Regions from separate parts of the Homo sapiens genome. Here regions 2 and 3 are each linked to region 1. The links come from fine-mapping of genetic effects on gene expression. A gene starts in region 1. Each other region holds a variant in brackets. All regions are shown on one strand. Distances are from middle to middle.

What was found. PIP is the estimated chance that this variant, and not a neighbour inherited with it, causes the effect.
Region 2: its variant is fine-mapped to the expression of ZNF385D in testis (GTEx, PIP above 0.99).
Region 3: its variant is fine-mapped to the expression of ZNF385D in nasal epithelium (TOPMed, PIP 0.96).

Annotation. Positions count from the first base shown.
Region 1 is chr3:21,748,160-21,756,346 of GRCh38, reverse strand. It overlaps ZNF385D (zinc finger protein 385D), which reads left to right and starts at 5,137. Exons shown (of 8, transcript NM_024697.3): 1 at 5,137-5,452. The coding sequence starts at 5,431.
Region 2 is chr3:22,368,595-22,376,781 of GRCh38, reverse strand. It overlaps a transcript of ZNF385D not described here. Among named protein-coding and RNA genes, the nearest start is that of ZNF385D-AS2, 420 kb to the right of the region's middle. The variant G/T (reference allele first, on the strand shown) is at 4,380.
Region 3 is chr3:21,702,435-21,710,621 of GRCh38, reverse strand. The region is part of intron 1 of ZNF385D (zinc finger protein 385D); the gene reads left to right. Among named protein-coding and RNA genes, the nearest start is that of ZNF385D, 45 kb to the left of the region's middle. The variant G/A (reference allele first, on the strand shown) is at 4,831.

The DNA.
Region 1 (8,187 bases):
ATTTGCTCAGTCCTCAAATTGTGAATACTCCACTACTTTAAAAAAAATCTTAAATTGCTTATCTAACCTACCAGAGAATTCTGTGGACCCATTTTGGTACATGTAGAGAATCTGACCACTTTTTCTACCGCCACTGTTTCTTCCCTGGTCCAAGCCATGTTCTCTTTCCTGGATTACTACAAAGGCTTCCTAACCCGTCACCTTACATCTGTCCTTGCTCGCTTTAGTCAATTCTTCATACGTCAGTCATAGTGAACTTGTTGAAGCATGTCAAATCACGTTGCTCCAAAGTTATATCATGTAAGTCATAATAAAAGTCAAAGTATTTCTAATGGCCTAAAAAGTTCTACTGAATTTGGCTCCATCTTACCTATTTGAAGTCAACTCTTGGTTTGCTTTTTAAGATCTACTCTACTCTAGCATATTGGCCTTGTTGTTCTTCCTGGCACTCATAAGGTGTATTCCCCATTTATCCTTTGCACTTTCTGCAGCGTTCTTCATCCAGCACCTGGAGTAATGCCTGGCACATGATAGGCATTCATAAGATGTTAAATTTATTCAAAAATGTTGAATGAATTCATAGATAAATAATGAATTTGTTCATTAAACGATGGATTTGTATGAGGTCATGGAGTTAAAAAAGAAAATCCTCTTTCATTTGGGTTACATACAAGTAAAGGCAAATTCCCACACTAAGTTTAAATGCTATAGTAGGAATTAGTACAGTGTGCTATGTGAAAAAGAATACAAACAACACCTCATTTAGTCTTTTGGTGAGAAAAATGTTCTCAGAAGACATAATATTTAAACAGACACCCAAAGATTGATTACAGATTGCTTCAGTAGAGAGAGCAGGTGAAAGGGAATGTAGTCTTCAGGTGAATTATAGCCATACTTTAGGTTTCACACAGTGAAGAGTGTGAAGGACAAAGTATTTACAAATGGAGAAGCGAATAGGGACTTGGTTGTCGAAAACCTTAACGACCTTGGTGGATAAAATACGGAAACAGTGAAGAATACTGAGCAAAGGAGTGGCATGATCATACCATTTTTAAAGATGATAATGGATCTAATATGGAGAATGAATTGGACATGGGCAAGTCTGAAATCAGGAACACTGGATACAATTTTATTGCTACAATATAGATAAAAGATAAAGGTGGACTAAACTAAAGCCAAGGGCGAGGCAATGGAAGACACAACTGAGCTATGCTAACTCATGCTGAATCTAAGTCTCTGCTCCATGCAGCTATGAGAATTTGAAAGGACAAACACACTCACAAACTGTGGCCTGCAGTACCATCTGGCATCTGTACTGAATGGAATTTAAGAGCAGCTGCTGCTAAGCATGGACAAATTCAATTTGTGTGAACACTTTGCACAAAACACAACCAACCTCAAAGAACTGACTTCAGGCACATAGAAAAGTATGATGTCTTACACACAATACAGCTGTACTTAGGATGCTCATTCATTCATTCCCTCATTCACAAATATTTATTGTATAATGACAAGTAGCAGGTACCTTTCTAAGAACTGTAGATATAGCATTGAACAGATAAAATCCCTGCCCTCACTGAGATTATATTCCAGTGAGGAGAAATCAAAAATAAACAGACGTCTAAAATAGTGTGTCAGATGATGATAGTTGCCATGGAGAAAAATAAGGGAGGAAAGGAGGTTAAGAAATGTCAGGGGAGGGACAAAGGCATTTTAAAACTGGAAAAAAAAAAGACAGTGAATTAGTACACTGATAAACCTTTGAGCAATATTTGAATGAGATGAGGAGTCAAGGCAGGCAGCTACCCGGATCTTAGAACACAGAAAAAATTTTCACCCAACCATGATATTTTAATACAAAATATGTAAGTGGTTTGAAGGCATCCTTTGTTTTAATAGTGCTAGGTATAATTTTATCTGGCAAGCAGGTTGGTGCTACAGCTGACCCCAGATGAACTGACTTAATTCACCTTCAGAAGCTCCTAGGTTCTCACAGATTCTTAGAGACAGGTAAAGGTCAGGGTGTGAACCAGATTCTTCCCTAGAAGCTGCTAAGTCGCTCCCTTGAGATGACATATGAAAGCATCTCTCAGGCACAGCTGGCATGTTCACAATCCTCTATCTAGCCAAGATCAGCTGTGGTTTCATTTGGAAATTATTATGCTTCAAAATTAAAAAAAATAATATGTTGAAGAAATGTGTGTACTACCATGTTCATTGCAGTATTACTCACAGGAATCAAGCAAGGTTTCCACTAGTGGATGAATGGATAACAAAGATGTCGCATATATACATAATGGAATACTATTCAACCTTTTAAAAGAGGAAGATCCTCTCATTTGTGACAATATGGATAAACCTGGAGGACATTGTTGTCTTAAGTGAAATAAGCCAGGTACATAAAAACAAATACCCAATGATTTCACTTATATGTAGAGTGTAAAAAGGTCAAACTCTATAGAAACAGGAATAAAATGGTTACCAGAGCTGCAGGGTGAGAGTATTAGGGAGATGTTGCTCAAAGTACAAAACGCAAATACACACACACACACACACAACAACAACAACAACAACAACAACCACCAAAGTTGCATTTTTTAATAAATGTATACAAATAAATAAAATAGTTTTATGTAAAACAGGAAAAAGTATACAATTAAAACAAACATCACTTGTTTTCCATCCAGAGATAAACAACTTTGTATCTTAAGCTTCTACATTCCAGATAAGCCTTAATTGCAGGGAAGAGGGGCACATATCTTTAATTTAAAAGGGCATCTTCCTTTTCTGTTTGAACAGAATTACATTGTATAGATATTACACTCAATTGTTTCTGGAATGCCATATTCTTTCAAAGGCTACATGCTGTTTTTTGGGGTATACTACCAGGCAAAGATTGGCATGTTCTATTACCAGATGCTCCCTGCTGATGTATTTGTGACCATATAGATATATTTGTTTCTAGAACATGCAGTGACATTGTTTTATTGGGGGTGACTTTTACCTGAGCCATTATAAATAGCACATTTATTTGAAGAAGGAAACCTGTTGGAGAACTGTAATATAAATTCAACAAACAAATAGTAAGACAACTGTTTCTTACTCATCACATCATTAAGAAAGTTGCTTAACATCTCTGAGCCTCAGGTTCTTCATTTGTGACATCTGTAATATCCACCTTTCTATATCTCAATTTGTTAGTAATAAAGATGACATGTGAAAGTGCCTTTTAACTGTAAAATGTCATGCAAATGCAAGCGTGTTATTAATGATTAAGGTAGTCCTTTAATGTTTCAAATCTCCTATTTGAAACTCAACTCTCAATGCTTGCATCTTCCAACTACAGGAACTCAAATGGACCCAAAGCACTAACATTAAACTACAGTGCCCCCTAGCACATGTAGGAGGTCAAGGCAGCTTACAGGCTTCATGAATAAGCTCTACCACAGATGGTTCTTTTGCCTGAGGGAAGAACTACTAATTGTACTTTTGGACAATTTCCATTTGTCCAAAAGGAAAAAACATTTACGCATTTTCTTCAATACTTTCCCGTAACATTGTTTTTATTTTAATTTTTAAAAGGGAGTAAAAAAGTTAATATCCTTTACTATGTAAATTTTCCTCTGGTGGCTTTAAATTAAGAGTATTTCTAAAAGAACAGCCCTAGATTTATCTTAAGATTCACTGTGATGTTTCTGATTTATATTTGCTTACCTACTTTCACTCACCAAATTCTTTATAATCTAGCGTGAGAGAGGATATTGTTCATTGCACTCTTCACAGAGGTAGAATACAGTTAAGCTTTTATGCAAGATTGCACAGAAAGCCGTTATTATGAGCTTCAGCCCCCTAGTTTCTATGCACATTAAATCCACCAAGAGATATAGAATCGCGTAAGGAAATGCTATAGAATATTTTAATATCAAAATGTAGAAATCTTTGCTATCACACTTTTATAAAAGCCCAGATTAAAAATATATCAATTGCATTCTTCCATAGACTACAGTTCTTTGTTTATATTTGGTTCTTAATTTCATAAATGTCTATAGAAATTTATAAGTTCAAATGTTCCAGTACGTAAATTGGTTCCCAAAGTGATGAGTCCTTAGGAAACGGAACTTGCTGTATGAGTTTATTTTTTCCATGCTGTGCATTTAAGTATTAATCAGCACAGCTTTCAGGGATTTCTTTCTAATATCCTTTTCTATGTAAGATAAGGACTGCAATTCATTATACCATTGGAGGAGCCAGAGGCTTTGCTAAGCTTTGCCTTTCTTGACCGTTCATCTCAAATTTAATGAGAGCGTTGTGTGTGTGTGTGGTGGGGGGGGGAGGGGGGTGGGTGTGTGTGTGTGTGGCTATATTATATTGGTGACTGGACTCTAACTATGGCACAATGTTGGTTGCCTTTCAGGCTAATCGTCTCTCCGTTTCAGGAGGTCAAAGATCATTTCAGCCTCAGTGTGCTTTCTACCTGCCTACTAAGGGAGGCAGCAAATTTGGTCCTGGGCAACTGAGAGGTGACTTTTATCACCAGTTATTTTTCTTCACATCTTTCTATCAACATAATAGCTCAGGGAACACTCAAGAAATAAAAAATTACACTTCACCAAGTACTAGCTTTCTGGGATGTGATCACTTCTAAGTGTGAACCTCTATTACCCTAGCAGTGGTCCCTGGCGTTCCTTTTATTCCTCTTATATATAAACATCACAAAAAATAACAACAAACCCTCAAGCCCACAGCAAAGAGAATGCAAGCACGGCACCATCCCTCTTCGTACTGCCGTTTTAACTTGGTAGAGGAGGTTAAATTTTGGAGAGAATGGTGGCATTCACAGGAGGGGCGGGGTAAAAGTGTTGTCTAATTACACGTTAATGGCAGAACTCGCCTTAACCACGTCCCTCCTGCACAGTGGTGAATTTCTCCTGTGTGTTCCTGTGTGGATCCCGACACTCTTCTCGCTTTAAGAGAGCCTCCCGCGCCCCTCACTCCGCCCCTTCCCAAGTCTCTGGGCTCGTCAAAGCTTCCCGAGAGCCATGGTTGGTCCAGGCAGGCAGTCGGAGCACCTCGTGGAGCGGCTGCTAACCCAGGGTGGGGTGGGGTGGGGTGGAGGGGTCTGCTTGTAGTACTCTCAGTCCTGATGTCACAGGCGCGGCAAGGACATCGCAAGGAGGAGTCGGATTACAGTAAGGATGGGCAGTGCAGCAGGCAGCCCGAGCGCACTCTCCAGCCGCCGGGGATCTTAGCCCTGGAAAGGCAGCCTGCAAGGCGCTCATCCCGCGGAGGAGGCACGCTCTCGGCGCTCACTGCTCTCCACGCCGGGGACATTTCCACCGAATGTAGCATGAAAGGGCTCTGCTCTACGTGCCAGCCTTGGGTGAGAGCTGATGCTGAAGACACCGCGGTGGGATTCCAGCTGTCTGATTAATGAGAAACATAATGTATTTTGGTGAGTGTTCACTCTGATGATGTAATTCTGGGGGTGTCCGGCTCTTCATCCGTGCAGACAAGCCCTTAAAAAATTCTTTAAGCAGCAAGAATATGTTACATTAAACCTACCTCCAGTTGGCAACTGGAGGACCAAGCCGGTGCAGCCTTCAAAGCTTCCTTTGTGCCACAACTGGGGCTGTTAATTTAGCCGTGGATGAGTTTAAGTTGGAAAAGAAAAGAGACAGGGACATGTGGAGGGGGCGGGGGGGTAAACTTTGCCTTGATTTGCCTGAATGAAGTTGGCTCTTTTAGCTAGGTGAAGGAGAAATAGTGCAGCGTGGGAAGTCATGAGCTAACTTAATGGAATGTGAAACAAAGTTTCTATACAATTGATGCTGTGAAAGCTTAGTCAATATGAGCATTTCATTCAGTATTTGCTGGTTTTTCTTGTTCTGAGGCGGAAAAGGAAAACATTGTCTAGTGAGCAGTGTGGTTGAGCAGCTGAGAACACTTCTCTATATCATCTCAGTGCTCTGTCTAGCTAGGAGCAGCCTAGCACAAAATGCATATTATTTGAAACCTTTAGAGGTCTCGGAGATGTCAAATATTTGTGCAGGTCAGTTTTGTGCCACGGTAGAAACCTCAGTTAGGTTTTCAGTTGAGCTGCCTGCATTTCCAGAAAGCATGTTGAGGCTTGGATCCGAGCTATCAGTTGAGCACTGGAAGTGGGCTTGGAGCTGTGCATTTGCACTCTAACGCCGCAACTTACTGCTAGTACAGGAGGCAAGCCCCTTCACTAAATAAGAAGAAGTCAAAGATAAGGACTGAATATTTGTTCCTCCTCTCTGAAGTTATGCTTTCCTTCTGTAAGTCCTATCTGGCGTCATCATTTAAGGGCATCTATGCGATATTAAAAGGTTTGATAGAGCAACTGGAGAGGGGCTAGGAAATGTATCCAAGATGCAAATGCTCTGATTTCTTGGTTTGCTTTAAATATTAAATCTAGCGTCTTCTTTCAGATTAAAGAGGTATTTAGATAAACTTAGGTTGGGGCACTATTAGTTTGTTGGAAATTTATTTCTGTATGTACTATTTGCTCTGTTTTGTTTCCTTTAGGCTTTGAGACACTTGAGAGTGTGTGGAAGGAATCTAAGTTCCAAAAGCTAAATGCCTTTAGTTGTCTTGACAGTTTTGATTTGCCTATAATTTGTATCATATTAGAAGAGAAGTCTTAAAATAGCTGAAAATGATTTGGAAGAAACAATTTCATTGCATTGCCAAATTTAAGCAGAATCTGTAGTTAAAAACCATCTCTTTCCAGTGGGTAGTAATGGAGGTGGTAAGCTTGTTTATTGGCCACTAACAGAGTTTATCATGCATATATTTTCATAAATGGAAAAGCTTGTAAAGATAATAGGTCTTTTGGACAAAATACAATTTCAGCATCAGTAATGATACTGAAGGATGATGAAACAGATTATAATTTTAGTTTATATTTTCACCCTCTTGAAACAATTCCTTATGTGATCGTCGTGAGGAAGTAGGGCCAATTAGAATAGCAGTAGAGTCTAAAAGTACTGGTCAAAGGCCATCCATGCTGGACTGGATTATCGTGTGACTATTGGAGAAATGTTCAGTGGGCTAGCTTGTGTTATTAACTGTATGCTAGTTCAGCCTCTTGTAAAGCAGAGTGATTCATAGGGTAATCAATTTCATTGTGTAATGCAAGTTTTTAATAGTACGAATTGAAATGTGATGTCCTACTTACTTTAGATGAAACTCTACTCTTTGAAAGGCAAGGCTAAAGTTGCCCTCAGTGTCTTGAACATTGTCTTACCATAATTTTGGTATAAGAAATGTTTTTCTGCTCCCAGAGGAAATCCTATGTATTCAGGAATGCTGTTTCTTTCGGGTTATGCTATGCAGCTTCTCGTACAAGCTGTTAGATATCCACAACTTTGGGAGCCCACCTGTCTCTAAAAAAAAAATGTGTGGTACAAGAGCGAGGGCAAAAAGAATTGAGCAGTACACTTCAGGCATGTTAAAATTCAATAGCATCCTAATGTTTGAAAATGCTGAAGACTATGTATTTATATATGTATGTATGTACGCACACACATATATGTGTACATGTGTATGTATCTTAATGTGTGTGCGTGTTCAAAATTGTAGCGATTTCAGGTAATTTTTCCAAGCAATGCTTTCACTTTGCAAATTGGTTGGCCATTACTTTCTTCTTCATTTTTCAACTGCAAATGGTTTATCAAGTCAGGGAGAACAGGGACAAAGGGAAAGCAATGCTGCATTCTTAGGCTTTTCTGGTGACTTGTGAGAATGGGGTAGAGATGTCACAAATCCTTTATTTGTGTCCCCAGCAGAGCGTGATGAAGAGCATGGTGATGCTATGGTACGGGTGAATTGATATGAAAGCGGGATATTTACTTCCTTTATAAATCATCTGATTTGTCAGTGTTGCCCCCCACCCCCACCCCTTCAAATATAGCTGAAGAATCACTACCTGAATAGCCTGGCTCAGCCTATCTGCTTCAATTCATTCCTCCTTCCCCTTGGGACTGGACAACTGGACCCTGCCCTTGCTTAGTTGGAGTCAGTTGTGTGTGTGTGCAAGTTGGTGGAAGATGTAATATTTTCAGATCTCAAGAACAGCTCATGTTTGTAGTGTGCTGTCTCAGACTTGCCAGAATAATAGAGCTTTCTAATGACTTAAGCCTCACTCTTATCTCCTATTGAGAT
Region 2 (8,187 bases), 620 kb before region 1:
TTCACAAAATCTTTCAGTGCCACCTATTATAGCTAGGGCAAAAAAGCAAATACTTTTATATTTAACTTAGTGAAGACCTTTTAATCTTCATATTCACCTTATGAGGTAGATACTATTATTATCCTCCTTTTACAGATAATTTACTTCTGTATACATCATTTACTTCTTAAGTTTCATGATATCAAACATATGATTTTAAGTACATTTGTGTTCCCCCAAAGTACCCATTACAGTGCCTTGCAAATAATAATGCTTATTAAAACAATTGCTGCATTCAATGTAGTCATCTTCTGTTTGCTATAAAATAGTAATAATAAAATATTCAAATTCTCATTCAGGTTAGTTCTTCAGGCTTCTATGTGAACGTAATTCTGATTATTAGAAAAGACTGGTTGTTGCAATGGTACAAAGACCTGGTTCCCTGTCATCAGCTCAGGATAACTCTAAAGGGCCAATGCAGCCCAGAACTCCTGTGAGATTGACAGAAGGCCAGTGTTGAAACTGTATTGTAGCTTTACCCATTCCCACATGCTCTATTCTCACATGCCTTGACCTCAATGGCTCTCCCCAGCAAATAATCCTGCACACTAATTTCCATGTCTACAGAGTCTGTTTCCTGAATAACCCAATCTAAGAAAAAAGGAGTATGGGCTAACTACGTTTATTAACTTTTTAAAAAACTTTTCCAGGGCCGGGTGCGGTGGCTCACGCCTGTAATCCCAGCACTTGGGGAGGCCGAGGCGGGTGGATCATGAGGTCAGGAGATCGAGACCATCCTGGTTAACAAGGTGAAACCCCGTCTCTACTAAAAATACAAAAAATTAGCCGGGCGCGGTGGCGGGCGCCTGTAGTCCCAGCTACTCGGGAGGCTGAGGCAGGAGAATGGCGTGAACCCGGGAAGCGGAGCTTGCAGTGAGCCGAGATTGCGCCACCGCAGTCCGCAGTCCGGCCTGGGCGACAGAGCGAGACTCCGTCTCAAAAAAATAAAATAAAATAAAAAATAAGAAGGATTCCAAAGACGTTCAGCCCATTCAAGGGAGAAAGTATATGCAAAGAGCTTGAGACAAGAAAAAATTAGCATATTAGAGAAACTGAAGATAAATATGTCACTCAGGTTTGAACAACAGGCATTTTCTCAATGTGTATTCATGTTTTCTCTTTAATCTCTCTGTGCTCACCTGACCATCTCTAGAGCAAAATTTTCCCTAACTTAGTTTCCATGACATTGAAATAATAGAACCCATGACTGTATCTTCGCCCGTCTTTTTGGTAGTTCTTTGGTGTCCCTTCTTCTTTTAATCTAATAATTAACTTATTAATTATTAAAATATTCACGAACATTTTTAGAGCCTATTATCTGCCAAGCACTCAGTCAGGTGCTGGGGCTGTAACAGTTAAGAGGATACGCATGGTCCCTGCCCTCTCAGACTGAGCAGGTTAGTGTAGAAAATATAAATTGCAATGAAAAATCAGTACATTATTTTTCATCCTTATAATGACTTTATGTGGAGGGTACTATTTTTCACATTTTACAGATGAGAATATTGAGAAACAAGGAGGTCATATAGCTCTAAGCTTTTGTCCTGAGTACTTTTGTTGCTTCCTATATTCTACCTCATAAACCTCACATTCTCCCAACAGTTGAACTCCATACACATGTCCAGAGCTCTAAAACACAAGAGCTAATACAGGCTCTAATGCAGAACCATTTCCATAGAGCAAAGCTTGAATTTCTAGATGTATAAGGATCTCCACCTGAACATCTCCCGCAGACCTTTGACTACAGCTGCCTAAAGAGAACTCATTATCTCACAACCTTTCCTAAACAAACATTAAAATAAAACTGAACAACTGTAAATTCCCTTCTTGGGTTCTCAACTCCTAAAAGTGTCACTATTTTTCTAGTTCTCCAGGGACAGAAAGTTAGAGATATCTTTAATAAATGCCTCTTCACGTAATTGCTGCACGTTGTTAGTTACATCTCAGCAATGTCTCTTTTTAAACATCCTTATATTTCATTCTCCACAGCTGCTATCACTGTTCTTACCTTCATGATCTTTTACCTAGTGCTTCCACGGCCTCCTAAATGCTTTCTACAGCTCTACTATTTTCTGGTTCTAGATCATCTTATGAACCTGTTATATCAGATTAATCTTTTTGGTACATTCCTGGTCATGGAGGTCCCCTGCTCAGCATTTCTGGAGTGAAGTACAAATTGCCCAGGCTAGCAATTAGAGCCCCACTTGACATCTTCCAAATCATTTCTTCTACCTTCCTCCATGTACTGTATGCTCTGGGTAGAAGGGTAGACTATAGACTACTCCCTTCCTTTTTATCTCTGTCAGAGAAAATCATATCTTAAGACTTCTGTCAAATGACCTCCCTTCAATGAAGTATCTCCAGACTTCACTGCCTTTTGAACTTTGCTAATGTGTTTGGTGTTCTCTTCTGGCACCATAGTCTGCCTAATACGGCACTTATTGGTATGTTGTCCAATTTCTCCTTTAAAGCAGGGGCAGGACGAGTTTTTTTTCACTCCCAAGAAAGGCCTTTACCATGGTAAATTAGGCTTAGTAAGTACTTCTTGAATTGAAATAGAAGGATGGGTGTTTACATTCAGATGAAAGCATGGAAAAAGAGAAAGGGTCAAACTAACTTATCAGTCATGCTAATTCAAATCACAACAGATCTTTTGGTGCATTGACTATATTTCTGTCTTTATTTTTTTGTTCTTGGCATTTGCTCTTCTTATCTGTGGGTTAATAAGTGATTTGGCTACTTTTTAATACACACTTGAATAGCGCTGCGTGTCTGGAAAATTCAACGATGGCCTCCTGGGAGGAACAGACTGCCCCTTAGAGGATATTACTTACATTTTCTTTCTAAATCAGGGTGTGTTTGTGGGGTGGTCACTGTGGATTGTTTTTCAGAGCTTCTCTTGAGAAAATGTAGAATGGTAAATTACCAAAATCTCTCTACCCTGTCATCAGCATTAGTATTCGTAATGATTTTATCAGGAGTAATTATTAATAACAATAATGAGAAGCTTGCCTGTAGGGTATTTTATCCTTTGGCACTGTGTTCATTAGTTATTTGGCCTCCACAGCATCCTGAAACCCCATGAAAACGGGGCTTGTTTTGTTATTTCAGACTATCTTACAAATAATGGCTCAGCCGATATTAGAAAGCAGGTTTGTTCATTTGTGTGTCGTAACTCAAAATATGGTTCTTGAATCAGCAGCCTCTGCCACACCATTAAAAATACAGAATATCAGGCCCCACTCCAGATCTACTGGATCAGAATCAGAACTGTAATAAAATCCCAAGGTTATTCCTGTGCAAAGTAAAGTTTGAGAAACACCCACTTTAAGTCCTAGAACAGAGCAACAAAAGGTATTTCATCCCTAGGGTACTGTAGTGTGTGCGTGCGTGTGATTTCATCCCTAGGGTACCGTAGTGTGTGAGTGCGTGTGCTTGTGAGAGAGAGAGGAGACAGACAGGTAAGAGGAGAGAAATCTCAGTAGGATATGGGTCCTTCCAGAGGGATGGGCATGTGGGATTTGTGGATGTGGGACTCCCCTGTATTCTTGCAGTAGCTTCACCAGATTTCGTTGCGTCTGCTGTCCAAGATTGTTGAGGTTAGCGTTATTTATAGTTAAATATGAGAGTTGAGAGTGTGGGGGAAGTTGTTGTCTGGTACTGCACCCAAACCAGGAGGATAAAGGAGGTAAGCACAAAATGACAGCCCCCTTTTCGAGCCTCACTCAAAAAGCAGCTCACTCAAGCTCATTTCCGATATCTGTAGTTTCTAGATGCATTTCGCCTCCTCGTGTTTCCACTTAACACCCACGACCCACTCACTCCATTAAAGCTAGTTCCTCGCCTCTAGTCTCCAGGTTTCTTTTTTCGTGGTCATCAGTCTCGCTCTCTCCCGGCACCCTCAGGCCGCGGGCCCCTCCCTTCGCGCGGGCTCGCACCTCTCCCCAGCCTGGTGCACCTGGGCTGACGCCGGCTCGGGACTCGTGCGGAGCGCCGCGAGCGCGGCGGAGGCAGAGGCGCGCTGACTGCCACCTCCAGCCCGTGCCGGAGGGACAGCACGCGCTGCGCAACGGAGACCGTTCTCCTTGGCCGCCGCTCACGGCTCGCGGCGACCACCGCCGTTGAAGCTGCAGGCGGGCAGCCGTGCGTCTCCCGGGACAGCCAGCCCCGGCGGCTGCTCCTCCCGGATGCCAGGGCCAGGGCGCCGGGCGGCCGCCAGCAGGAGAATGAAGAGCTCGGTGGGAGGAAGGAGAGAAAAGCTCCTGGGGGCGCCGAAAGCTCAGCCCAGCCGCGGTAAGTTGAGTGCAAAAAGAGGTGTCTCGGTTCAGGTGGCGGAGTTC[G/T]TTGGGGCGCCGGGCAAGGAGCTAGGGTTGCGCCCCTGCGGGATACCAGGCGCGAGGGGCTGGGGCTCGCATGGGGGGCGCGGAATGGGCGTTCGCACCGCCCAGACCTTGGACCACCTTTTCGGTATCCCGCACTATCGGTCCACACACCCCAGCCTCTTCTCGGTGCCAAGGAGAAGAGATGTGAGGTTGCGGGGCCAGAGTGAAGAGCGCGGAGCTGGAGGGTCTCAGGTCACAGCTCATTGCCGAGAACCAAGGGGCAGGGGAGGCCGAGGCGGGGGGGCGAGGTCAGCCTGGTTCTGTCCAGAGTCGAGGGCTGGGCCACCCGGTAAGGACGTCCTGCTGTCTGTCTTTCATTGGGTGTGTGCGAGGCGTGCTCCCTCCTCGGGGGAAACCTGGCGAAGTTGTTGGGATAAAGAAACACAGCGGGACAGCTTCCTGCTTCCTTTTCATTTCCTTCTTCTTCTTCTTCTTTTTAAAACAAATACTTAAAAAAACCTGAGATACACGCGTTTTGAGGGCAGGATGAGAAGCTCTTGAGTTATATGAAGCGTCCCTCCAAGGAAATCACTTTGACATTTAGGGTGGGGTTGGGAGGCTGAGTGTAAGCCAGGGCTCCTGAATCTGATTGTCTTCTTGGCCAGCTAGTGCCTCTTTTTACGCTTCCATTGAGTACCTGGAGGAGCAAATTAGAAGAGAGCACAGAGTTGTGTACCTTTTGACCTCTTGCATTTTGGGAGATGTTTTATTGTGTGTATGAATTTGGGTCAGAGGACACCTGCAGCCTCCAAAATGGTGTCACCCTGTGTGAAATGCCCAATTCCAGATCTGTCCCCCTTACAATCAGGCTTGTCCACCTCATGTGTTTCTGGAGATTGTGCTGATGAGTGCTTTAGCCCGAGCTGGTCTGTGATTTCAAACGAGTGATGCGTGGTTTCTGGGCATTGGAGTGTCTTCAATTCTGGAACCTTGAACTGACTGAGAACATCTGACATTCTGTAGGTGTAACTAAGGACCCTAGAGCTGGCGCTGTTCTATGCTAATTCTGCGGTGTTCCCGGAATATGGTGGGGAAATCATCTCTGTTCTGCTGAGTCTGTTTGCTAGCTGGTCTGTGAAATGTGCCTTTCAGGTGACCACTGAATTCCGGTTCACGATGTTTTCTAAAACCTACTGGAAAGGTCTTCCTCCCTCTGGGTTGTCGTGCCACTCGTTGGCCTATGCTGGTAATTCAGTCACACTACTCTGGTCTCTAAGCATGAAAGGCAAATATGGGTCATTTCAAATTATGTAGATTGATGCAACACAGCATGTCCGGGCTTTGCTGCAATTTCTTCACATTTCTTTCCAGATGTTTTTTAGAAATTAACTTGAGCACTCTCTTCATGGAGCTAAAATGTAGACTAGGGGAATGGGCAAACATCTTGAGTTAATGTATTATCTCAGATTTAAGGAAATGAAGTGCTGGAAGTTGTCTGTGTTAGGAGAAAGAGACCTGAGGCAAAAATCGGGGCTTCTGAATTATTTTTGCTCTATGACAATGTGGCTGAGAGATCTTTGGGGTTACCTAATAATAATAACACCTAAAATGTGTTTCCCATTCACTGAACACCAAACTCTACAGCTAACGTAAATGCCTAACAATCCCAAGAAGGTGGCGTTGTTACCATCTCCATTCCGTAGACAAGGAAAAGGAGATTTAGAGATGTTAAATTGGGAAAAGTCCCACAGTTAGTGTTTTGTAATCCAAGATTGCAGAACTCCAAAGTCGGTTGTTAACCCCTACACAACCTCTTTGAGCCTCACTTGAAAAATGAGAGCAATAAACCTCTCTAAGTTTTAATTCCATGAAAAATTCATACAGTGATTGTAATACCATAGATTGATTCATACCCAACCATTTCAGGTATTTAATATAACAGAATGCAGAATTTGTAGATGTGAAATAAAATAAAAATTGTGTGGCACTTATATAATTCGGACTGCCAGCTTTAGAGAGGGCAGAACACTGAGATCTTAGTGTTCATCTTGAATGACGTTCTTTGAGTCCTGTTATTGTAAATCAATAGTGCTACATTATAGCCCTTGTCTTAACAATGTGTGATTTATAACATCAAACATGTCTGGTGCTAACATCATATTTGTGTGACTATAGAGTTATCCTGAGGTCTACATGAACACTTCCATATTTCAGCCAGCTTATAATTAAAGCTCAGATCCTGACAGGATTTTAAATTTCCATTAAGAGGTACAAGCAGCTTGTTTTAAAATTTCCCTTTTATTTTAAACAGTATTTTCAAAACAATTACTACCCCTGCTGTGACTTGCTATTTACCAGGTGCATCAAAAGTTCAATAATGAAAATGTTTGCAATTCAAGAAAACAGTGTTTCATCTATAGTAACGAAGATTAGATGAGTCACATCTAACTTAGTTTTTTTGTAATTTAATTAAAATGTTGCATTTCTCATTGCTAAGTGTATGCAGGTAGCTGAGTATACAGTATCCATTATTTTCTTATAATCTCCAACTTCATAAATTCAGTACTTATGAGTTCTTCAGCTAAGTAATGTTAGTACTGTCTATAAAGATTTTGAGGTTTTAAAAGTAGGAGTAAGAACAAGTAAGATAACTTTGTCATGTTTCTTCACTAGCTGTAATTATACTTTATTTTGAGAGTGATGATATATTTTAAGTCACAGATCTCATTTATCCATACATGAATGGAATTATCAAATAAAATTTGTATAAACCCATTGGGATGCTAATGCTATTAATATTCCAAATTTGGGAGCAGCTTTGGAAAATAGAAAATCTTGGGGAAATTAACGATAATTTACTATGTTTCATTGTATTTGCATGATATCTTACTGTTTCCAATAAATCTACATGTCTCATAATAACTTGCCTAGAGAGTTGTTTTATTTTTTGGCAGTAGTTAAGGAGGTTTTTATAGTAGCTAACATATTTAACCTTAGAAGAGTATTAAAATAATGAAACTAATTATGAACTTGAATCGTCAAACTGCAAAATGTTTCATGACAATGGGAGTCTTGTAAATGGTTAGCCTTATAATCACATGTATGTATTTTCTACTGTTTTAAAAATGTTTGTTTCATATTCAAACAATAGGACTAATATTTTATTTGATATTATTTGGTGATTTGAACAACCAGATCTCTGAAAGGTAATTTAAGCTCCATAAACATGAGTCACACTGACATCCCAGATTGAAGAAACTAATATTGGAAAAGGATCTGTAATTTTGAATGTTTCAAGAGCTTGGAACTCAAGGTAGATGGTACTTCTTAGTTTTCTGACAAGGACTCTAAAGTGAGAAATTGAATAAAATAAAGCTGGTGAGTTGAAAATCAAGCAAGTGCTTAAATTGCCACTTAGGAAGCTGAGATCAACTTCTGTAGATTACACACCCAAAAACTGCCAGTGTAATTTATATTTTGAACAAGTAGATGACACACGGGAGATCATTTAAAACATTCTAGTCAATTAAAAATGTATTTACTTCTACTTTTTTAGAGCCTGGTAAAGCTAGTGATGTCTTCCTGCTATGGATTGAATGTTTATATCTCCCCCAAACTGATATTGTGGAGCCCTAGCCCTTAATGGGATAGTATTTGAGGTGAAGCCTTTGAGAAATGATTCGGGTTAGATGAGGTTATAAGGGTAGAGCCCCTGTAATGGGATTAGTGCTCTTATAAGATGAGGAAGAGATGAGGACCCTTTCTTTGTCATGTGAAGATGCAGCAAGAAGATAGCCATCTGCAGACCAGGAAGAGGGCCCACCGCAGT
Region 3 (8,187 bases), 46 kb after region 1:
GTAAAAACAACTGAGCATCAAAGCTGAGAAAATGCGAGGACTGTAACATACTAATTTAAAATGCAGTACAGATTGGGCACTGCTCACCAATATGCATTGTGGCATCGAATGATTCTCAGGTTATGGAGGATTATGAAAAACACAAAAAGAAGCCAGTGCACCTTAAGGAATTCAGAAAAAGCCATACAGTTGAACTTTATAAAAAATAAATTGGGTTTTAGGAATTACACAGGTAATCTTAACCATATCACCCTACCCCAGTCTCACCAGATCATTGGGTCTTGCAGAGCCAATTTACTAAAAAAGCAAGTATCTATCTATTTATTTTCGTAAAAGTGTAAATTACTCCTTTTGATCTTTAGTCCTATAAATTTTGACAAATGCATGCAGTCTATGTAACCACTACCACATCAATCAAAATATGAAACTGTTCCATTTTCTCCCCCAAACTCCTTCATGTCTTTTATTCTAAACCATACCCCCATACCCAACTCCTGAAAGCGCTTGTCTGATATCTGTTTCTGTAGTTTTACCTTTTCTAAAAGGTCGTGTAATTGAAGCCATGATAGAGTATGTAGTCTTTTGAAACTGGCTCATCTCAATCATCCCAAAGCCCTTGAGATTCATCCATGTTTTGTGTATCAATAACTCGTTCCTTTTTATTGCTAAGAAGAATTCCACGTATGGGTGTGCCGTAGCTTGTCAATCTGTTCACTTCATTGAAGGACAGTTTGTTTCCAGTTTTTGGTGATTATAAAGAGTGCACCGTATACATCTTCAAATAGGTTTTTCGTAAAGTTTTTACTTTTCTTGGGAAGACACCTAGGAGTGGGACAGCTGAGTCATATATTAAGTGTATATCTAACTTTATACAAAACTGGAAAACTATTGAATTTACTTTTACAATAAATATTGAAAAAACATATAGAGGCGTCCCTCTTATCTATGACTTTTCTTCTGCTAAAACTAGTATGTGATGTTTTTCTCTTATAGTTTATTTAACCTTGAGGTGTTTAGTTCTAATATCATTCAAGAGTCACTTCTATTGAAAAGACTTGGGAAATTGATGCTTTAAGAGTAGACAAGGAGGCTAAAGAAAAAGGTGAGTCTTGTTTTGTTTTGTTTTGTTTTGTTTTCATAGAAGCCTCAGGAGGTATGAAGTTGCCTGAGAGAACCCCTGCTTCTGTTAAGAGTATGGTCAGTCACCTTAGGGTTAGAGAGGGTTTCTGGAAACTCATGGGGACTAAATTATTAGTAAAAAGCAGGTACAGACAACTCTGGCTCGAAAAATTAGAAAGTCATTGAATGTTTGGAAGGAAGATTAGCATAGAAAACACAATATATCTGCCTTTGAGTACACTGCTTCATCAAAGCACAGTGAATTTATGTGTATCATTGTTTCTGAAAGGAACGTGAGATCCTGAAGGAGATGGAAAATGGAAATAAACATTATGGTATCCACTAATACTCATGTAAAATATATAATATGTTACTGACAGCACCATATTTGTGGTTTGTGCATTTTATTTTAAGAAATATGAGAGGAAGTATTGAGCCTGTGAGAGTTTTAATTACAACCTAAGTTCCAATCTACCCATGTGTTCCTAAATCTCTCACTGTGGCTTCTTCTACCATGGAAGCTTTCGAAACAAACCTTTGCCTTTAAGGAGAAACTGCCTTATGATAGTTAAGTTTTAGTAAGGACATTAAGATCAGTATATTATTGTTGTTGTTAGTGTGTGTGTGTGTGTGTGTGTGTGCACGCCCACACACACTTCGGATGCTTTAATTATTGGCTTAATTAAACAGATTTAGAAAGGAAAAATAACCAACAAAGTCTACTGATGCAAATCTGTTGAAATTCTTAGAAAACTAAATGTATTGCTTTATGAAAGTTGATGACAAAATAAAAATATTAGAATGAGGGGAGAATCAAACCAAGCTGTAATAAAATAATTTTTAACATTGAATACAAAAAATCTGTAAAAACATAGAAAATGATAAGGAGTGAAAGCATCTTTTAAAATTTAGTAATGTAATAGAGTAATTTCAAATTTATTTCCACATTTTGGGACTTGGGTGAGGAATGTCCATGGGTCAGGAGAAGCCAATAAGTAGACTGGAACATTCAGGAATCATAAATTATAGGAGGAGGGAATAACAGTTCAGAGCAGTGGCATTAGGCAAGAGTAACTGAGTTTACCTGAGTTTAAATCCTATTTCTTCCGCTTAAGAGCTGTGCCATCTTGGGTAAGTTACTTTACTCTAGCTGAGAGCAAATAACACCACCCTCATTGTGTTGCTGTAAGCGTTACATGAAATACTGCTTGCAGAGTTCCCAGCCCAAGGCCTAGAACATAATAAGTTCTTAGCAGTTACTGCTGCTGCCCATTTGAGTAACAGTAGCTAAAATTAACCCAGAAAGACTGATTTCCTTTTACTTTTTTCCTTATAAGCACCAACAAATTTAAACTGATGCTTAGGATCTTTGACCTAATATTAGAACTTGGCTTGTCATGGAGATTTGGAGCAAAAAGGAAATGAAGATATCATTTCTAGCTGCTTCTTTGACAGATGAGGAAACTGAGTCACATAGAGATTGTTACTTTCCAAAGTCCTACATGCCCGTAGTGCCGGACCCAGGACTAAAACATCCAGCTGTCTGTTCCCAGCTCAGAGCTCCTTCCGCATCACCACTAAGTGACTTCAGGTCACTAAGCACAGATGCACACGTATAATCCTGCTTACTCACTTCTCATCTTCTAAAATTTTAAAAGAACAGATCTTTCATCTTCTACAGTTTGTATTTTTCCCATCTTTGAAGACCGATCAAGGGAATAGATATTACTAATTGGAAATATTAACCAAGAGCATTAAAGAAACTGGTACATTCTCAAGTGATCTCACTTTCAGTATAAATTTATATCTATATTCGAATTGACCATGCCCTTTCCAAATGCTGCCATCTCAGGAGAGCCCATTTCAGGTTTTGCTCATATTAGCATACACTGCTGTAATCTGCAACATTTTTTCTCCTTAGAGCATTTATGGGTTTAAACATTTTCTATATGTAGAGGTCTTTCGTTCCCTTTCAAGATTCTAACAAAGAAGCACTCACAATGTCATTAAAGGAGATATCAGGATGGGGGTTCTGTCTAAAATTTGATCTGCATTGACAATTGCTTCGAATTTTAAGCCTCCTGGTAATGATCCTAACACTTCAAAGTTAAACGGTGCTTACTGCACCATGAAATATAAATGAAAGCTTGACTTCCTACTGTACCAAAGGACTGTAAACAATCCCACACCTGTGCACAATTTATAGTAAATCAAGCATTCTGAATATCATTTCATGTTGAATATTTTAAGTGCCTTTAATAAAGATGATGTGATTTGTAAGTCACAAAATGAAGCCAATCTAAATAGGAGTTATTAAAAAAGAATAATAACTATTTAACTAAGCATCCTTTTCTCCTGGCAGTGTGATTCATTTCATCAGCTTGCTCAATTAAAAAAAAATAACAAATATTCTTGGCAAGTAAAGCCCACTCAAATTTGAATCACATCTGGGTTTTATTAAAGGTAAGCTACTGAAAGCCTTTGAACTTAAACTTCATCAAGCATTTCAAATTGTTCCCGTAGATGTATCTACGCATACAGAGGGATGAAGGCTGAGGCAGCTACTTGAAGAAGGAGGAAGAAAATAATCTGTCCTTTTCCTAAACCTGATTTGTCTCTGTGATTAGAATTTATCTGTCTAATCTATTTATCTATCTATCTATCTATCTATCTATCTATCTATCTATCATCTATTATCTTTGTGTCTATCTAAATGCTGCTCTCTCAGAAGTGGAATGTTAGGTGATGTGGTGCTCTGTTACCTTAACAGATGCCTTCATGTACATGGTGCATGCAAAGTAATGCATTTCTGGGTATTGGTCTTAACTATAACTGACTCTTTTCTACCTAAGAAGATTAATAATGGCAATAAACCATCCTGGTCCTTGATCACTTCTGATGGTAGCATTATAAAGTAGACATGAGTTTGAGAACATGTTTCCTAAGCCCCAGTTTCTGCCTCTAGTTAAGGGGCCAGCTACAACTTAGGAAAAGCTCTTACAATTTTCACTTTTGTCTCCTCAAATTGTAAGTATGCTACAACTTGTGCAAAATTAATTCCTGGCATCACTGTAGTTTTTACCAAAAGATGTACTTTTTTTTGGAGAAATATATGGTTCTTCATTGATCCCAGTGTAAAAATGTCACGTGAGCTGTCAAAAGTTGATTGTCTTTAAAGGGATGATTTGTATGATATGTGAACTGTATCTCAATCAAGCTATTAGGAAAAAAAAAAAGCTGATTGCATGATAAGGACAAATTTCTCAACAAGAGTTTTGTTTTGCCAGTGTGAAATCACATAAGGTTGTATGTCCTCATTGAAATCTGTTCTGTTTTTGTCCTTTGAGAAAGGTAAGCCAATTTTACAGTCATTATTAGTCCTGTAACCAATGAGTAACTATTCTAAGGACAAGACATATGAGAGTGAGTTAGACCCTTGGAGGAGTCAAAGTAGTGCATCAGATGTTCTGTCGTGTACAGGGATGGTAAATTTCCACTCCTCACCCCCACCTTTGCCATCATTGATCGAGTCATGCTTTCTTCCTGGTGACTGAGCTCATCTGGGCACATGTCCCAGGCTGAGGCTTTGGCAACCAGAGCTTGGTGTGGGAGTGGCAGGAATTGAGCTACTGGGTACTGCAGGGTCAGGAAGCAAGGGACAGTCCAGACAGCCAAATCCAAACATGTGAGTGGAACAGCAAAATCCACCTC[G/A]AATGCAAACAGTCTGAACCAAAGGAGAGGCATGTGGGAGCAAGTGGATTTTGGGGGTGGTGGAAAGAAGCAATGGAACACAGAGAAGGTTTTGTTTTCAGCTCTGCCATCATATGACCATGGACAAGTCTTTTATTCTCTTAGTTTTAATTTCCCCAGGTGTAAAATGAAGAGATTAAGAAATGACCTTTGAGGAAGTCCTCTTACTCTCATATTCTTTGCCTTCCCATGCCCACGTAGGTAGAAGACTACATTACACAAATTGAAAGCTGTAGGATCATTGAGATCAATAAGTTTTCAACACGGTAGAATTCACTTTTGCTCATTTCAAGTTAATTAGTTGTTTCTAATTTGCAGTTTTGTCTCATGCTCTTTGGGACTTCTATAAGAAAACATTCTTTAAAAATATAAATATAGGAGAACTTGCTGCCCTTTCTTAATCTGTACCAAGAAAATATTTCTGATGTTTTTAAAAGAGCTTATTAGTCCAGGGTATTGATATTTACTAAGTGTGCCTTCTTTTATGGGTACATTTTATTAAGCAGGGATTTGGGTCAGAGTTCTTAAACTGATAGCATGCCAGCTGCATTGTACTTGCAGATATTTCATTTGGTTCATACAATATTTTATAATAATTTAAATTCATTGCTACATTTTAAAATGAATAGATTTTAACATGGAAAAAACAAGCTTTTTGGCTTTTCTTCAAACATAGGAAGATCTGGCAACACGAACCCTACATTCTTGAATGATAATACATGTCTGGAGTTGAGTCCCAACTGCCCCTTACAGATGACTTGGGCCTCTGCAGTTTACCATGGTTACCACCAAGCCATATGAGACATATTCTTGGAAATATATGACATAGCACCCCACTGCAGAGGGATGCTAGGGTTAAGCTTATAACAAGTACTTATTAAGTATCTACTTTTTCTAGCACTATGTGAGAAATGTGAGATTATATAGTTTATTCCTTCATGTAATAGATATTTATTTAGGACCTACTATGTGTCAGGTACTGTTCTAGGTACTGGGGATACTGTGATGAACAAAACATGATTTAATGCAGCTTTTACTTTAGTATGAGAAAAAGGTAATGAATCAGGAAATAATATCCTAGCTGGGCCTGGTGGTGCATGCCTGTAGTCCCAGCTACTCATGTGACTAAGGGAAAAGAATCGCTTGAACCCGGAAGGCAGATGCTGCAGTGAGCCGAGATCACACCACTGCACTCCATTCTGGGTGACAGAGCGAGACGTTGTCTCAATAAATAAATAAATAAAATAAAATAAAATAAATAATATCAGATTTTGGTAAAGGCTATGAAATAACATGGGGTAGGGAAAGGGATAGTAAATGAAGAATGGTATTCAAGGGGAAGACAGGTAACCCAGTGACTACAGGAATGTGTGCTCGGGACTCTGAGGGGGTTTACACAGTATGTTGCAAGTACACATAAAGCAGGGCTTTTCATCTGGAATTCAGCACTTAGCAATAGCTATTGGCAGGACCTGAGTAGAATCCTGAAGAACAAAGAGGAACGTTGGTGGCTGACTGAGTAGGCAAACCAACCACTAGCTAAGTTACAGCAGCAAGGCAATGTCACCTCAAAAATAAGTTCAGTTTCAGGGAGCTTACATGGGAGCAAAAACCCTAGAGTAATCTGTTCTAACTTCCAAATATGTGTTTTGTCTTTTATGATTGAGCATTGCTTTTAACTTGAAAAGCATATGAAAAAGGGGCACAACAATTTCTTTTCAGTGGTTGTGGTTGGTAAAAGACATAAACAGGCAGGGCCCTACAAAGCAACATCAACCTATAGCACAGTGCTCAAGACACAGATTCTGAAGGGAGTTTGGCATGTTCGAAGATCTTAAAGGAATACTTGCATAGTGCTAGAGTGTATGGTGTAGGGAAGAAAGTGGTGAGAGTTGACCATACAGGAGTAGCAGCTATTGCTAGGTAAGTGCCTGGGCTCAGTTTAATCCCAAAGGTCAAGAAGAGAAGATGCTACAAATAACAACATATTTGGCCAACTCACCAGCATAATGGCCAGCTTCATGAGCCAACATGAAAAAAGAACTACAGTGGTGTCTTTACACAGGAGAATGCCATTTTTTTTTTTTTGTAAGAGGATAAAGAGCATGAGCTATATTTACAAGGTTGCAGTAACTGCTTTTTTATTTAAAAAGTTTATTTTACACACCCAGCAAGAAATAAATGGCGTGCTGAAACTGTGTAATGGAAAACATTTTAATAGAGGGGTTATTTACAATGATTGGGAAGGGTTTGAGGCAACCAAGGGATTGCACAATATCCTGGGCAAGGAGAAGAATGGTTATCTTTGAGCTACACTAATATGGTTTGGCTGTGTCCCCACCCAAATCTCAAGCTGAATTCTATCTCCCAGAATTCCCACATGTTATAGGAGGGACCCAGGGGGAGGTAATTGAATCATGGGGGCTGTTCTTTCTCATGCTATTCTCGTGATAGTGATTAAGTCTCATGGATCTGATGGTTTTATCAGGGGTTTCCACTTTTGCTTCTTCCTTATTTTTCTCTTGCCACCACCATGTAAGAAGTGCCTTTCACCTCCCGCCATGATTCTGAGGCCTCCCCAGCCATGTGGAACCATAAGTCCAATTAAAGCTCTTTTTCTTCCTGGTCTCTGGTATGTCTTTATCAGCAGCGTGAAAATTGGCTAATACAGTAAATTGGTACCAGTAGAGTGAGACGTTGCTGAAAATATACCCAAAAATGTGGAAGTGAATTTGGAACTGGGTAACAGGCAGAGGTTGGAACAGTTTAGAGGGCTCAGAAGAATATAGAAAAGTAGGAAAGTTTGGAACTTCCTAGAGACTTGTTGAATGGCTTTGAAAAAAATTGCTTATAGTGATATGAACAATAAGGTCCAGGTTGAGGTGGTCTCAGATGGAGATGAGGAACTCATTGGGAACTGAAGCAAAGGTGACTCTCGTTATGTTTTAGCAAAGAAACTGGTGGCATTTTGCACCTGCCATAGAGATTTGTGGAACTTTGAACGTGAGAGAGATGATTTAGGGTATCTGGTGGAAGAAATTTCTAAGCAGCGAAGCATTCAAGAGTGACTTGGGTGCTGTTAAAGGCATTCCATTTTCAAAGGGAAACAGTGCATAAAAGTTCAGAAAATTTGCAGCCTGATGATGCAGTCGAAAAGAAAAACCCATTTTTTGATGAGAAATTCAAGCTGGCTGCAGAAATTTGCATAAGTAGCAAGGAGCCTAATGTTAATCCCCAAGATCATGAGGAAAATGTTTCCAGGCCATGTCAGAGACCTTCACAGCAGCCCCTCCCATCACAGGCCTGGAGGCCCAGGAG